3 separate regions of the Homo sapiens genome follow, and regions 2 and 3 are each linked to region 1. The links come from fine-mapping of genetic effects on gene expression. A gene starts in region 1. Each other region holds a variant in brackets. All regions are shown on one strand. Distances are from middle to middle.

Region 1 (4,247 bases):
TACTACAAGGCTACAGTAACCAAAACAGCACAGTACTGGTACCAAAACAGACATACAGACCAATGGAGCAGAACGGAGACCTCAGAAATAACACCACATGTCTACAACAATCTAATCTTCGTCAAATCTGACAAAAAACAAGCAATGGGAAAATGATCTCCCATTCAGTAAATGGTCCTGGGAAAACTGGCTAGTTATATGCAAAAAACTGAAACTGGACCCCTTCCTTAGACCTTATACAAAAATTATCTCAAGATGGATTAAAGACTTAAATGTAAAACCCAAAACTATAAAAACCCTAGAAGAAAACCTAGGCAATACCATTCAGGGCATAGGCATGGGCAGAGACAAAAATGCCAAAAGCAATGGCAACAGAAGCCAAAATTGACAAATGGGATCTAATTAAACTAAAGAGCTTTTGCACAGCAAAAGAAACTATCATCAGAGTGAACAAGCAGCCTACAGAATGGGAGAAAATATTTGCAAACTATGCATCTGACAAAGGTCTCATATCCAGAATCCATAAGGAACTTAAACAAATTTACAGGAAAAAGACAAACTACCCCATCAAAAAGTGGGCAAAGGATATGAACAGACACTTCTCAAAAGAAGACATTTATGTAGCCAACAAACCTATGAAGAAAAGCTCACCATCACTGATCATCAGAGAAATGCAAATCAAAACCACAATGAGATACTATCTCGAGCCAGTTAGAATGGCAATTATTGAGAAGTCAGGAAACAACAGATGCTAGAGAGGATGTGGAGAAATAGGAACGCTTTTACACTGTCCGTGGGAATGTAATTAGTTCAACCATTGTGGAAGACAGTATGGAGATTCCTCAAGGATCTAGAACCAGAAATACCATTTGACCCAGCAGTCCCATTACTGGGTATATACCCAAAGGAGTATAAATCATTCTGCTATAAAGACACATACACACATATGTTTATCGCAGCACTGTTTACAATAGCAAAGACATGGAACCCACTCAAATGCCCATCAATGATAGACTGGATAAAGAAAATGTGGTACATATACACCATGGAATACTATGCAGCCATAATAAGGAACAAGATCATGTCTTTTGCATGGACATGTATGAAGCTAGAAGCCGTCATCCTCAGCAAACTACCACAGGAACAGAAAACCAGACACCACATGTTCTCACTCATAAGTGGGAGTTGAACATTGAGAACACATGGACACAAAGGGGAAACAACACACATCAGGGCCTGTTGGGAGGTTGGGGGTGAGGGGAGAGAACTTAGAGGATGGGTCAATAGGTACAGCAAAAGAAAAAAGAAAAACAAATTGACAGAAAAAATGGTAACAAAAATAAAAATAGGATAGTTTCCTTTTGGCTTACCTGAAGTGGCTATTTTAGCTATTAGTTCAAATATTTGTAAATTTTAAAATCTATCAAATTTTCTAGTGACAGCATGTGGAAGAGAAAGTTATTGAAAAGTCAGTTAGCTAATTTTTCAGACTGCAAATCACATATGTAGAATTATGGTTGTCTAGAAGTATGTTGTTTATGTTTATCATCAGTATATTTTTATAAGACAACTCATACATAATTAGAAGTAGTAACGGCTACATAAAATAGAGCATTTTCATTTAAAACAATTCTGATGGGGTAGCATGGAAGGAAGAAAATTTTGGTAGAATTTAGCTGGTTTCTAAGGAAGAGTAGAAGAGAAAACTGCCTCAGAAAAAATGAATAATGTGCCTGCAGTTTTAAACCTGAGTCTGAATACGTACATTTTGCTTAGAGCTGTGTGGAATCTGGGAAGCAAGTCTGTGTTTTCACTTTATGCACTGTTGGTTCTATTAATGAAAGCCACCAGGTGACTGGCAGTTTTCGGAGTCAAAGAAGCCTGTGTGTAGGATCTAGGGAGTCAGGTTTGAAAAAAAGATGTCAGCGACTTAAGACCCGTGTCACGTGACTCCCTCTACTTGCCAGCACTGAGGCTGTGGATCAAATTTCAACTCCAGGCAGTCCTTCCAGCCATGTGGGTTCAGCGGAAAGAGAAGCAAAACCACTCTTCCTAAAATGTTAGAAGCTGCTCTTCGCTTACCTTGGGGCCTTTGCATTGGGAGCTGTTTTTCACATCAAAGAATATGTGCTGAATGGAATTTTAGTATTTTGCTGTCGTTTTAATATTTTCGTCTGGTCTTCCTCAGTTCTTCCAGACGCTTTCTGAGAGAATGGGGGCAGGAGCTCTAGCCATCTGTGTAAGTATAGGCCTTCTTCTGTCTTCTGTGTTTACTGCCAGTTTTTAGGAGAGGGCCTTGCCTTCCTTGTTTTGATGAGATGTTTGTGTAACTTATTTTTCCTTCCCAGGAGGTGGGGAAAGATTTGTTACTTAAATTCCTATCTACTTAAATGGGTATTAGGCAGGATTTGGGATGGCATTCAGCATATTTGTGCACTTTAGTTTCCAAAAAAGGTGAAAGATGCATGCTGATTTATTCCGTTAAGTCAACTTGATTTAAAGTAGAGCACTTTCAAGCATTTTAGACTTTCTTGTCCCTGAATAGTTAAACATGAATGCTTCATTATAGCTATTAGAGAAATCTTGTGGCTAGCTTGAGGAGGAATTGAAGTAACCATTAATTTATTACTTTTGAGTATGTGTGTGACATTTTTCTGTTTTATATTTCTATTTTCGTTTAGTAATTCTGGAGTTTCTGTTTCAGCATGATTGCTGAAAGTGATGGTGGAGAAGCTCAGTTGATAAATGTTTGTGTATCCTTAAACTGTAGAAATGAATGGTTGTTATAACACAGTAGCATTAATAAATAACACTGAAATAAAATCCTTGGGAAAATGTGCATATTTCTGGAGTTTTAGAATTTTTAGAATTTATGAATTTCTAAATTATTCTGCTGGTGCTTGTACAAAACCTTTTGTAATAATCAAAAATTGTCAATTATATAATTTGCAGAATGCTGTAATTTAAATTTTGATTGTACTATATAGAAAATGCATATATCTGTATGAGAATTACACATATTTATGTTTCAAGTTGCTATTGTATTCCATAGGGACATTTTATTTTCTAGAATGTATTAAATGAGAAATATCTTCTTCCTTATTATCACCTTAACTGCTCACTTAAAAAATCACACTCAGGCCAGATCCTCTTTTTTTGTGTGTGTTTCAGAAAGAGCTGCAATTTGCTGTAGCTTCTGATGGCATTCTGAAGTGTTTAGAAATATCTGAGCAATTTTTGACACACAGACACCAAATGGTCACCAAATGGTCACCAAATGGTAGACCAGCCCTATAGATTAAGTTTTCTTAGTGAAACTGCAGGATGACCTTGTTTCCAGGCTCAAAACTTTTCAGCACCATGTATGTCACTCTGTCTTCCTTTTAACTCTGAGGCTTAGTAGCATCCAGGTATCCATGTGGTTATTCTTTTTTTATCACCCCAAAGAGTTTCCTTCAAAATCTGATTTATCTATGTGTAAAATACTGACTTTTACTTTACTGCAGAGGTGGCCCTTCTATTTTTCTAGCTTTATAAAAGAAACAATACAGAACTGAAAATGTGTAGAATGAGGCAGCAGATAGGTCATGAAGATTGGTAGTCATCTCTGATTGTCTGATTAGATCTTTACTTCTTTCCCTTGACCTGCAATATATTGATCTCTACCTTGACTGGAATGCACACTGACTCATGTATAAAACTTTATATTTTCCCTTAATTTATATCCAAAGCATGTATAAAATTTCAGTTAAAGTTGACATAAAAATCACACAGTGTAAGAGATTATTCACTCTGGTAGATGAGTAATTCTCAATCATTTCTACCCTTCTCCTTAAGGTTGGCCTTTGATTGTGCTGTCTTGGTTTTACTGTAGGAGGAAATACATTTTCAACAGTTGTACCATAGCATATCTGGAAAAAGATAGCTTTTGGAGAACAACAAAAAAAATTTTAAACATCGTGACAAAAAAGGGAGAACTAAGTCACACATTAATACATTCAATGAGCTGATACACTACTTTTTACTTTGTGTAGGAGTGAAGAGAAAGCTTTTCCTCTGCCCTTTCTGCAATTTTATTGAAACAATTGGCAATAGATTAATAGGAGAAAAAGAGTTACAAATTTATTAATATGTATATGGATATGAGAGCCCCTCAAATATGAGATTCAAAGAAGGGCCAGGTGGTTGAAGCTTAAATGCCTTCTTTTTGGGGAAGAGAGAAGTAGGGAGCTGCAGGTAATTTTAGA
Region 2 (4,247 bases), 230 kb after region 1:
TATAATTGTGATTTTCTACCTCAAGCAGCTATTTAAAGTGTTAAGCTTAAGCCAGTAATCCCAGCACTTTGGGAGGCCGAGGTGGGCGGATCACCTGAGGTCAGGAGTTCGAGACCAGCCTGGCCAATATGGTAAAACCCCATCTCTACTAAAACCACAAAAATTAGCCAGTCATGGTGGCGGGCGCCTGTAATTCCAGCTACTCGGGAGGCTGAGGAAGGAGAATCGCTTGAACCCAGGAGGCGGAGGTTGCAGTGAGCCAAGATTGTGCCACAGCACTCCAGCCTGGGTGACAGAGCAAGACTCCATCTCAAAAATAAATAAATAAATAATAAAGTGTTAAGCAAGAGTTAAAGTGATTTTTTAAAATAAAAATGGTATGGAAATATATGGAACTAAGTTATGTTACTAGAAAATCAAATTAGAATTTGTAAATCTAGAATCAAAAAAGTATAGACAATTTCAGTTGAAATAAGTTTGGGGTTAAATCAACTCCTTTTGTTTTAAAAGGCTGATTTTAGTTACTGATAGTTTATCATTATGTATGATGATAGTTTTAGGATGGCAAATCTATTTTCATAAACACAGATTATTTAGTCAGACAATGAAAATGTTTTTATTAGCAGGTATAGCAAAGAAAAGCAGATGTCTTATAATAAATAGGACCTTGTGTTCTAAATTCAGAATTATGAGTGATCTATATAAAATTGGGGAAAAATTACAGGGGAAGGGGATACCTCATGCCTACAAGCCCTCACTGTTTCTGAATGTCATGTTCCTTCTACTACTAGAAGTGATGGTCTGGACTATGTTGTAATTTTTTACAACTCATGATGTGAAAAAAATATCATGTAAATATATTTCTGCTATTTTTCTTAAAATGTATAAAATCTATGGATTAGGATTTATGTTCCTAAAAATAACACCCTGGTATTCTACACCAAAGAAGAAATTATAAGGGGAAGGTGATAATTAACAAATATTTAGAAGACTTTATGGAAAAACTGATTTTGTGTTACCTATAAAAAAAAATAAAAATAAAAAGCAACCCCCCCAAAATGCTGTTGATGTTCATGGAGAAAAATAACTGTGTAAACACATTCAGTTTTATAAGAATAAAATGCAGAAATAGTAAGTTGAAACAATTTTCATTAGAGTGGATTCTGATCCCTTAAGAACTTGGGCAGAGACTTAGGGCACGTATCCTCCCCAGAAGTGGAGCTACGTGCGCTGGGTGATGTCACCAGCGACTAGTAACCACCGCAGTGTAAACAAACATCAGCAGGAAATACATGTGGGTAGGGCAAGGGTCTAGAGGCATGCTTTCCTTCTAGAAAAGTCTCACTCCTTTCAAGGCTAGTGTTTTTGTTTCGTTTTGTTTTGTTTTAAGGAAGAAAGGGGACGCAACATAACTCTTGCCTTCTGCTACAGAAACCTTTAGTTTCGTGGGCAGTGTCTTTCCTTGACAAATGGAATCCTTGCTGGCAGTCTCTGTAATGTTGAGAAGTACAGGACTCTTGGCTCTTGCTGCAGTTATTGGTTGCTTGCCCCAGACTGAAAATCTTGTCTGTGGAACTGCTCAGAGGAAAGTTTCAAGTTACCAGAACTAGGCAAGCCCACTGAGGAGCAGGAGCAGGAGGAGAGAAGGAGGAGGAGGAAGAGGAGGAGGAGGGACCATTGAGGAGCAGAAGGAGTAGGGTGCGGGGGAGGAGGAGGAGCGCCTTTAGTGCTGCAGCAGCTGCTGCTCTGATTGGCCCGGTGGTTCAGCTGCTTCCCTGGAACAAAAGGTCAAAGTGGACTGCAGTGTAAATGTAGAGAAGCAGCCGATAAAATAGCATTGCCTGAAGAAGTTTGGAGGCTGAGAGCAGCAGTAGACTGGCCAACTGCAGAGCAAGTTGTTTCTCCAGCCGTGCGGTGCAGCCTCATGCCCCCAACCCAGCTTAGCCACTGTAAGAAGACGTTCACTGTACAGACGACCAAACTTGCCGTGGAAGAGACAGTTGTGAGATTCCCTTGCAAATTTACATACGAGAATGGCTTGTGAAATCATGCCTCTGCAAAGGTAGTATTTTCCTATTTTATTTTATTCTGCTATGTATTTTTTGAGTTGTATCAAGCCATATAACTTTGCCAGTACTTGGCATCTTTTAGTAACATGCTGCAAAGTGTGTAGAGTCCGTTGTACATATGGTTCCTCCCTAAGAACAGAAAAAATTAAATATTATACTGCTCTTTTACTGACATTTTGCCCAACTTATCTTTTTCACTTGATTGTTGTATTTAGTTATATCCTTCTCTGAATGGAAATGAATATAAGAAAATACCTTTGAAATCTGAAGAAAAACATGGACTGAGAAGTATAATGAGCGAGTTTATAATAAAAACTGAATCCGCTTCTTAGCAGTGTTCCTGCTAAGGCTATTTTAAAGGATGTTGATAGGCTGAAGACCTTTTAAAATGCATCACAAGATTCTTCTCTTCTGGAGTTCAGATCTAGGCAAGGATTTTCCATGAATAAGTACATCATAATATGTGAGAATAAATGTTAAGGATAACATTTCCCCTTCAATAATTCCAGACAGATTTATTACACAAATAGCATTTTT[T/A]AAAACTGCTTAGTAAGAATGATTGAGTGCAAGACTGTTTTTGTTCCTTCGTGATTATAATATAGATTGTGGGTCTGGGGGGAGGCGAAGGAGTTATACCAAAGCAGAGAAAGGTAAATTTAAACAAAGGGTCTTATGAAAAAGAACACTGTTGTGAACTAAGAAGTGAAGAATGTAGGCATGGAGAGGGCCTCAGGGCTGCCCAAGGTCACATTTTAGGATTTTAAACATTACCTTTGCTAATCATATTGTCCTATTTCAACTTCAACTGCTTTACATGCAGTGGCATTTCATTCCATAGAAATGTTTCATTTAGGAAAACTATAGAAGGTTTTATTAGTAAAAAAAAAATTTTAAATCAAATAGTAAATGTGGTTTATTTAAGGATAAAAAAAACTAGACAAAAACTAATTTCATTTTTAAAAACCATGCCACAAATATTTCAGTGAATGTTTTTGTTTTAGCAATGAAAAATAAGCTTTAAAACATTGCTTATTTGCAAAATGGTTTCTACAGATACTTACAGTGAGATAAAACAGTATAGTCATTTTTCCTTCACTGTACTAACAAGGACACTGTCATGGGAACCTGATGGGGGTGTCCAAAGAGTTCCTTTTGTAAAAATTAAGAATCCAAGGGAGCAGAAAGTGGTTTACAAATATATCTAAAATTTTTCTACGTGAACTCAGTGAAAATGTCCACATGCTTAAAGCTTGTGAGAGACTAAAACACTTTGTGGAGTCTTGATTTGGTTTCCAACTTTAAAGTTGGAGACATTTTTCCCCTTATAATGACATCAGTTCTTAAGGGTTTTAAGCGAATTGTATTCTAGATAAGAATATTGGCTACTACTGAACTCTAATAGCCAGCCATGTGATGCTCTAATAATTGTTAAGAAGAAAATAGATCTTTATACTGTTAAAACATTGTTTAGGCAATCAAAACGATTAAAGCTAAAATAAAACCATCATTATTTCCTGTAAATTATTTTGTATTTTTAGTCATGATTAATGAACCTAGTAGGAATAAATGCAGGAATAATTTGAATTTGCATTCAAGAATGTTGAGTTGCTACTTTTGTTTCTTTGCATTACCATTCTGAAGAGCGCTGTTACGTGCATTCACTGCCGCAATGTTTACCCAGCTCTTAGAGTTTAATTTGACTGATTTCCCTGCAATCTTTACTGCCAGCCTGTACCTACCTTTGGTTATAAACCTCCTGAAGGTAAAGACCAGGTTTGTGCGGTTGTCTTTGTTAAGCGTGCCTTGTGAATTTAAGCATTTGTGTAGAAAACTTTCCCGCCCTTACGTGTAATTGTTTCTTCAAATCCCAGTTTGGTATCTTTGGCTATTGATTTCTGTGACTCTCGTGGTAATGATGACTATTGCGGACTCTCCCCACCGTTATGGGCCTGAAGCAGGAAGGTTCCAGAGCCTTAGCAGTATTCTTGGAAGGAGTGCTTTGTTCCATTCTGTTTAAGAGCACCAAGGGATAGAAACTACATTGAAATTGGATGTGTAAAAGAATAGCTTTAAATAGCAGCTAAAGAAATTCATGCTCACTGTTTGTATTTAGCAGAGAGTTCAATGCTTCTCATACTTTGAGTGCATGAGAATTACCTAAGGAACTTATTTTTCAAA
Region 3 (4,247 bases), 120 kb after region 1:
AATTGTAAAGATCATAGAAACATTAGATAGAAACTAAAAGGTAGATGGGCTTAAAAGAAATTGAGAATCTCAGAATGAAACTATTAATATACTGAAAAAGAAGAAAAATGAGAAGGTAATTAAAGAAAAGTTATCTTTCTGTTCATTTTTTCATATGAGTTCAGTTTTTGGAAGGATGAATATAAAGATAGGAAATGGGCGCAAAGTAAATGATAAAGACCCAAGAGTAACAGGGACATAAAATATATGAGTTGGGAATAAGGCAAGTCTCATGTAAATGACTTAGATATAAGGCTTTTAAGTGGGGAAAAGGACTAAACATAAACACTGACATACCTCTGTATATCCCAGTTTGGAGAACAGAGTCATAAAGTGTTGAATGAAGTTTCTTATATATTCTTGCATGTGAAACGGAGATTTGGGCCCAGAGAAATATGTTCGGTTGTATTTGGACCTAGATAAAGAACTTTGACCAGAGTATTGGAAGATGGAGTCTTTTTCTGTCATAGGCTATCAAAGCCTAATGTCTGTTTCTGTTCAGCTGACTCTGGTCAGTAGCTGCAAAATTGATCATGGCATCTACAGCACATTCATCAGCCTCACTTCAAGACAGACTTCCTCTGTCTGAAGGCCAAGGTAACAATAAGGGGAAAAGTTTTGTCAGTATGACTTCCCCTTCAACTTTGCTTTCCCTGCCATTCTTTGGGAGTGAACCTAGGTCCCTACAGAGTTTTTCCAGATTCTGCAATGGTTTGGCCATGTTGACTAGATCTAGTTACTCCAGTGAAGGAAATTTTGGATAGACCTCTTAGCCCTGTGACATTTGGAGAAATATGAGAATGTATATGTTGGCCCTTGGCATTTTAGCCTACATTTTGTTGAATTTGGCAAATAGTCTTCACAGTCAGTGGTCCACAGTTATGGCCATCTCTTACTTCACTTAAGTTGGAGGTTTCTTTTCTCTCTTTCATTAGTTTTGTTTTTATAGGTTTCAAGAAGGGAATTTACATAGGAACATTTTTATTTTGTCAAAATGAAAGGTTACAGCTGTATTTCTGAATAACTGGGTTAGGAGAAGCACATCTTTCCAGTAGGCATCTAACAGCCACAGTCTAATTTCTCCAGCTGCAGGATAATTCTAGATTTTCTCTTCAGAAGGTGTTCTAAATCCAGACACTAGTGAAGCCCCATTCAAGAAATAACTTAATCATCCAGATATTTACATACACAAAATTTAGTGAGAAAAGTATGGATAAAATAATGGACCATGGACTATACGTTGAATTCATTAAATCCAAGTGTTAATAATTATTCGGTGCCTACTAGGAGCAAAGCATTGTTCTAGGCATACTGAACAATAGATGAAAATCTCTGCTCTTATGATTCTTATATTCTCATGGAAATACACTAAACAACAGCCAATAAAAAAGAAAAGAAAATATGTAGTATGTCAGATGGTGATATATTCTGTGAAGTAAAATAAAGCAGGGAAAGGCAGAAGTAGAGGATTGGCCTTTGCTTATTTAAATAGGACAGTTAAAATGCTTCATTGACAAGAAAACGTTTGAGTAGAGACTTGAAGGAAGCAAGGGAGCAAGCCATGAAGACACTTGAGAGAAGAGTATTCCAGGCAAGGAGAAGAGCAGTACAAAGGTCTTGAGATGTGAATATACCTGGTCTGATGAGCAGTTGAGAGGCCAGTACAGTTGGATTACCATGAGCAAGATGGAATTGAAACGAAATGAGGCCACAAAGGAAACAAGGGATCAGCAGATTGTGTCTATTCATAGATCATTTTGAGGACTTTGACTTTTACTCTAAGTGAAGCTATTAGTCAGTATTAAGCAGAAGAGTGCTACGTTGTGACTTCTGTATTAAAAAGATTACTAGG[T/C]TCTTGAAAGGGATAGGCAGAAGTAGGGCAATGTATTAGGAGTTTATTACAGTAGTCCAGGTAAAAACAATGGTAAATTGGGCATGGATGATGGTAATGAAGGTGATGAGAAGATCTGAAGGTAAGCTAGGATATACAACAGCAATACAAAAGGAGGTACTAGAGACTGTAGTTAGGCTAAAGAATGTTTGAGGCAGAAGTAGATGAGCAAGCAAGCTAGAAGAATAGGGGCTGAAAACAGGAAATAGGAGGTTTGCATTACTGATTTTGGAGGTTGAGCTATCTGGAGTGAAAATAAGGCTTAGATTGGGTTTATGAGCATGAGGGACTAAAGTGAAGGAGAAGAGAAAATTATGGGAAAGGAGAAGGCAAAGAGATGGGAGATAAAGATATTGATGGTTTCTCCTTATTGACCCTGAATTTACCCAGAAGGGTGGCAGATATTGAGGGGGACAGTAGTCTATGAGCCTGGTTTGTCTTGTTGTCCAGTTTGTGTATAAGAGTTATGAATATATATGTAATAGGGTTCATGCAAACCTCATATATATGCATCCTATAAAATAATGTGATGAGCATATTGCTAAGTATCTATCTAGAAATATCTAGATGAATATGAGCCTATTCCAGATAAACATGTTATAAGACTTTCTTTATTAGACAGTGTTGCTGTTGCTCATTATATCTTTTGGAATTTTAAAGTTGTCTTCAGAGCATATATATGTCATTCATATACCATATTTTTCTGTATATCATTGGACTGGGAAATCTTCGTACTTTAATGCTTTATTTGATTGTGGGAAGTAATCAATAGTCATTTTAACCTATGGCATATCACTAAGTTGAGGAGTGCTGATTATATGTTAACTTTTGGGTTTAAAATTTAAATCTGGCTATAAAATAATTATGTTGATTTTCTTATATGACTTTTAAGCAAACTCTCAAAACAGTTACTAACAAATGCTCTGAGCAAAGCAAAATATTAGAATGGCCTTCCATAGCGATTAGTTCGAAGGAAGTGCCCACATTAATAAATGTTATGGCAAGTTTGACCACAAAGCTCATTTTTTTGTGTATTTGACTTTCCGGTCAAAAAATTTAATATTGTTTATGTAGAATCAAAGTCACTTACCATATAAACTGATATATCACAGAAACTTCCTAAACCATTTCCCATATCTTTTTCATGCTCAAAAACATTGCATGTGTCTCCATTTTCATTTAGGGCCACAGCCTAAGCACAATTAACTTCAACAAATGTTTATTCACTTTTTTCTTATTTAATGCAAAACTACTCTGGGCAAAGCTTTGTACTAAGTGCTGGAGAGCTTCAGAAAATAAATAAGACATGTCCCTGTCCTTGGGGGACCTTACAGTCTAAAAGAAACAAACAAACTCAGTGTAGGAACACAGGGGCAAAAGGGAGAATAGGGCTTTATGCTAGACATTGTGCCAAATTCTTCTATATATGTATCTCATTTACTACTGACAGTAACCTCACAAGTAATTGATCTTAATACTGGTTTACAGATGAGGAAATGTAATGATAAATTGCTTAAGATCACACAACAGTAAATGACAGAGCTGGGTTTTGAAATCAAGAAAGTACTGATTAGAGGCAAAGTAGAGAAATAACCAAAATCTTAGAGATTTAACTGAGGCCATCAGTGCCATGAGCTTTTATATGTGTTTTCATTTAATGAGTATGTACTGTAGCAACTTAGTGTCAGTGTCAGGAAAGTAGTTGAACTCTGTTCTTCTGACTCCTATATGTCTTCACTATTCCTAACCTCTTCTGTAGCCCCTCAAGAATATTAGAACCTTCTGAGCAGCAGGAGAGTTATAACAGGAAATAAAAGATGTTTTTGGCTTTTTGTTGTTTGCTTCTTTGTAATCTGATTGTATTATCTCTCCTTTTGTGTAGGTAAACTTACATAGTGAGAATGACTAGCTTGTACCCACCAAAATCTATATGTTATCATTTTGAGCATTTATGAAACTCAGAGGTGGCACTTATTTAGAATTCATTTGTTCCTTTCTTCAGAACAAATCCTTCTTTTGATCGTGAGTTATAATTTTTAGGTAGATTCTGAATTTGGAGGTTAAAAAAAGTTAAATGATGTATTTTTAAAATGCAATGATTAAATAGCATGACAGATCATAGAGTTGAGATCAAGATGGCTGAATAGACCCAGTAGTATATGTCTCCTTCACAGAGAGGGACCAGAATAGTAAGTAGATACATTTTGAACAGATTGTCTAGGAGAAGACACTAGGATTCACCAGAGAAGAGATGGGAAACACCAGAGATAAGTAAGGAGAGGGTTTGAGGCAGCCTGCATGGCCAGGGACTGACTGA

Which allele goes with the higher level. Positions count from the first base shown, and alleles are read on the strand shown. Sizes are in standard deviations (SD) of each study's normalised expression. Not every link is listed here.
For the expression in monocytes of the gene that starts at base 1,992 in region 1, A is the high allele of the variant in region 2 and T is the other (moderate effect, 0.48 SD a copy in Quach 2016).

What was found. PIP is the estimated chance that this variant, and not a neighbour inherited with it, causes the effect.
Region 2: its variant is fine-mapped to the expression of FAM13A in monocytes (Quach 2016, PIP 0.95). The same link has a PIP of 0.9 or more in monocytes after LPS.
Region 3: its variant is fine-mapped to the expression of FAM13A in whole blood (INTERVAL, PIP above 0.99).

The regions. Positions count from the first base shown.
Region 1 is chr4:89,054,930-89,059,176 of GRCh38, reverse strand. It overlaps FAM13A (family with sequence similarity 13 member A), which reads left to right and starts at 1,992. Exons shown (of 24, transcript NM_014883.4): 1 at 1,992-2,239. The coding sequence starts at 2,213. RefSeq lists an enhancer at 2,129-2,691.
Region 2 is chr4:88,820,791-88,825,037 of GRCh38, reverse strand. The region is part of intron 7 of FAM13A (family with sequence similarity 13 member A); the gene reads left to right. Among named protein-coding and RNA genes, the nearest start is that of FAM13A-AS1, 110 kb to the right of the region's middle. RefSeq lists enhancers at 1,048-1,734, 1,735-2,422. The variant T/A (reference allele first, on the strand shown) is at 2,607.
Region 3 is chr4:88,931,455-88,935,701 of GRCh38, reverse strand. All of the region lies in intron 5 of FAM13A (family with sequence similarity 13 member A), which reads left to right. All of the region lies in intron 1 of LOC105377327 (a long non-coding RNA gene), which reads right to left. Among named protein-coding and RNA genes, the nearest start is that of FAM13A, 120 kb to the left of the region's middle. The variant T/C (reference allele first, on the strand shown) is at 1,892.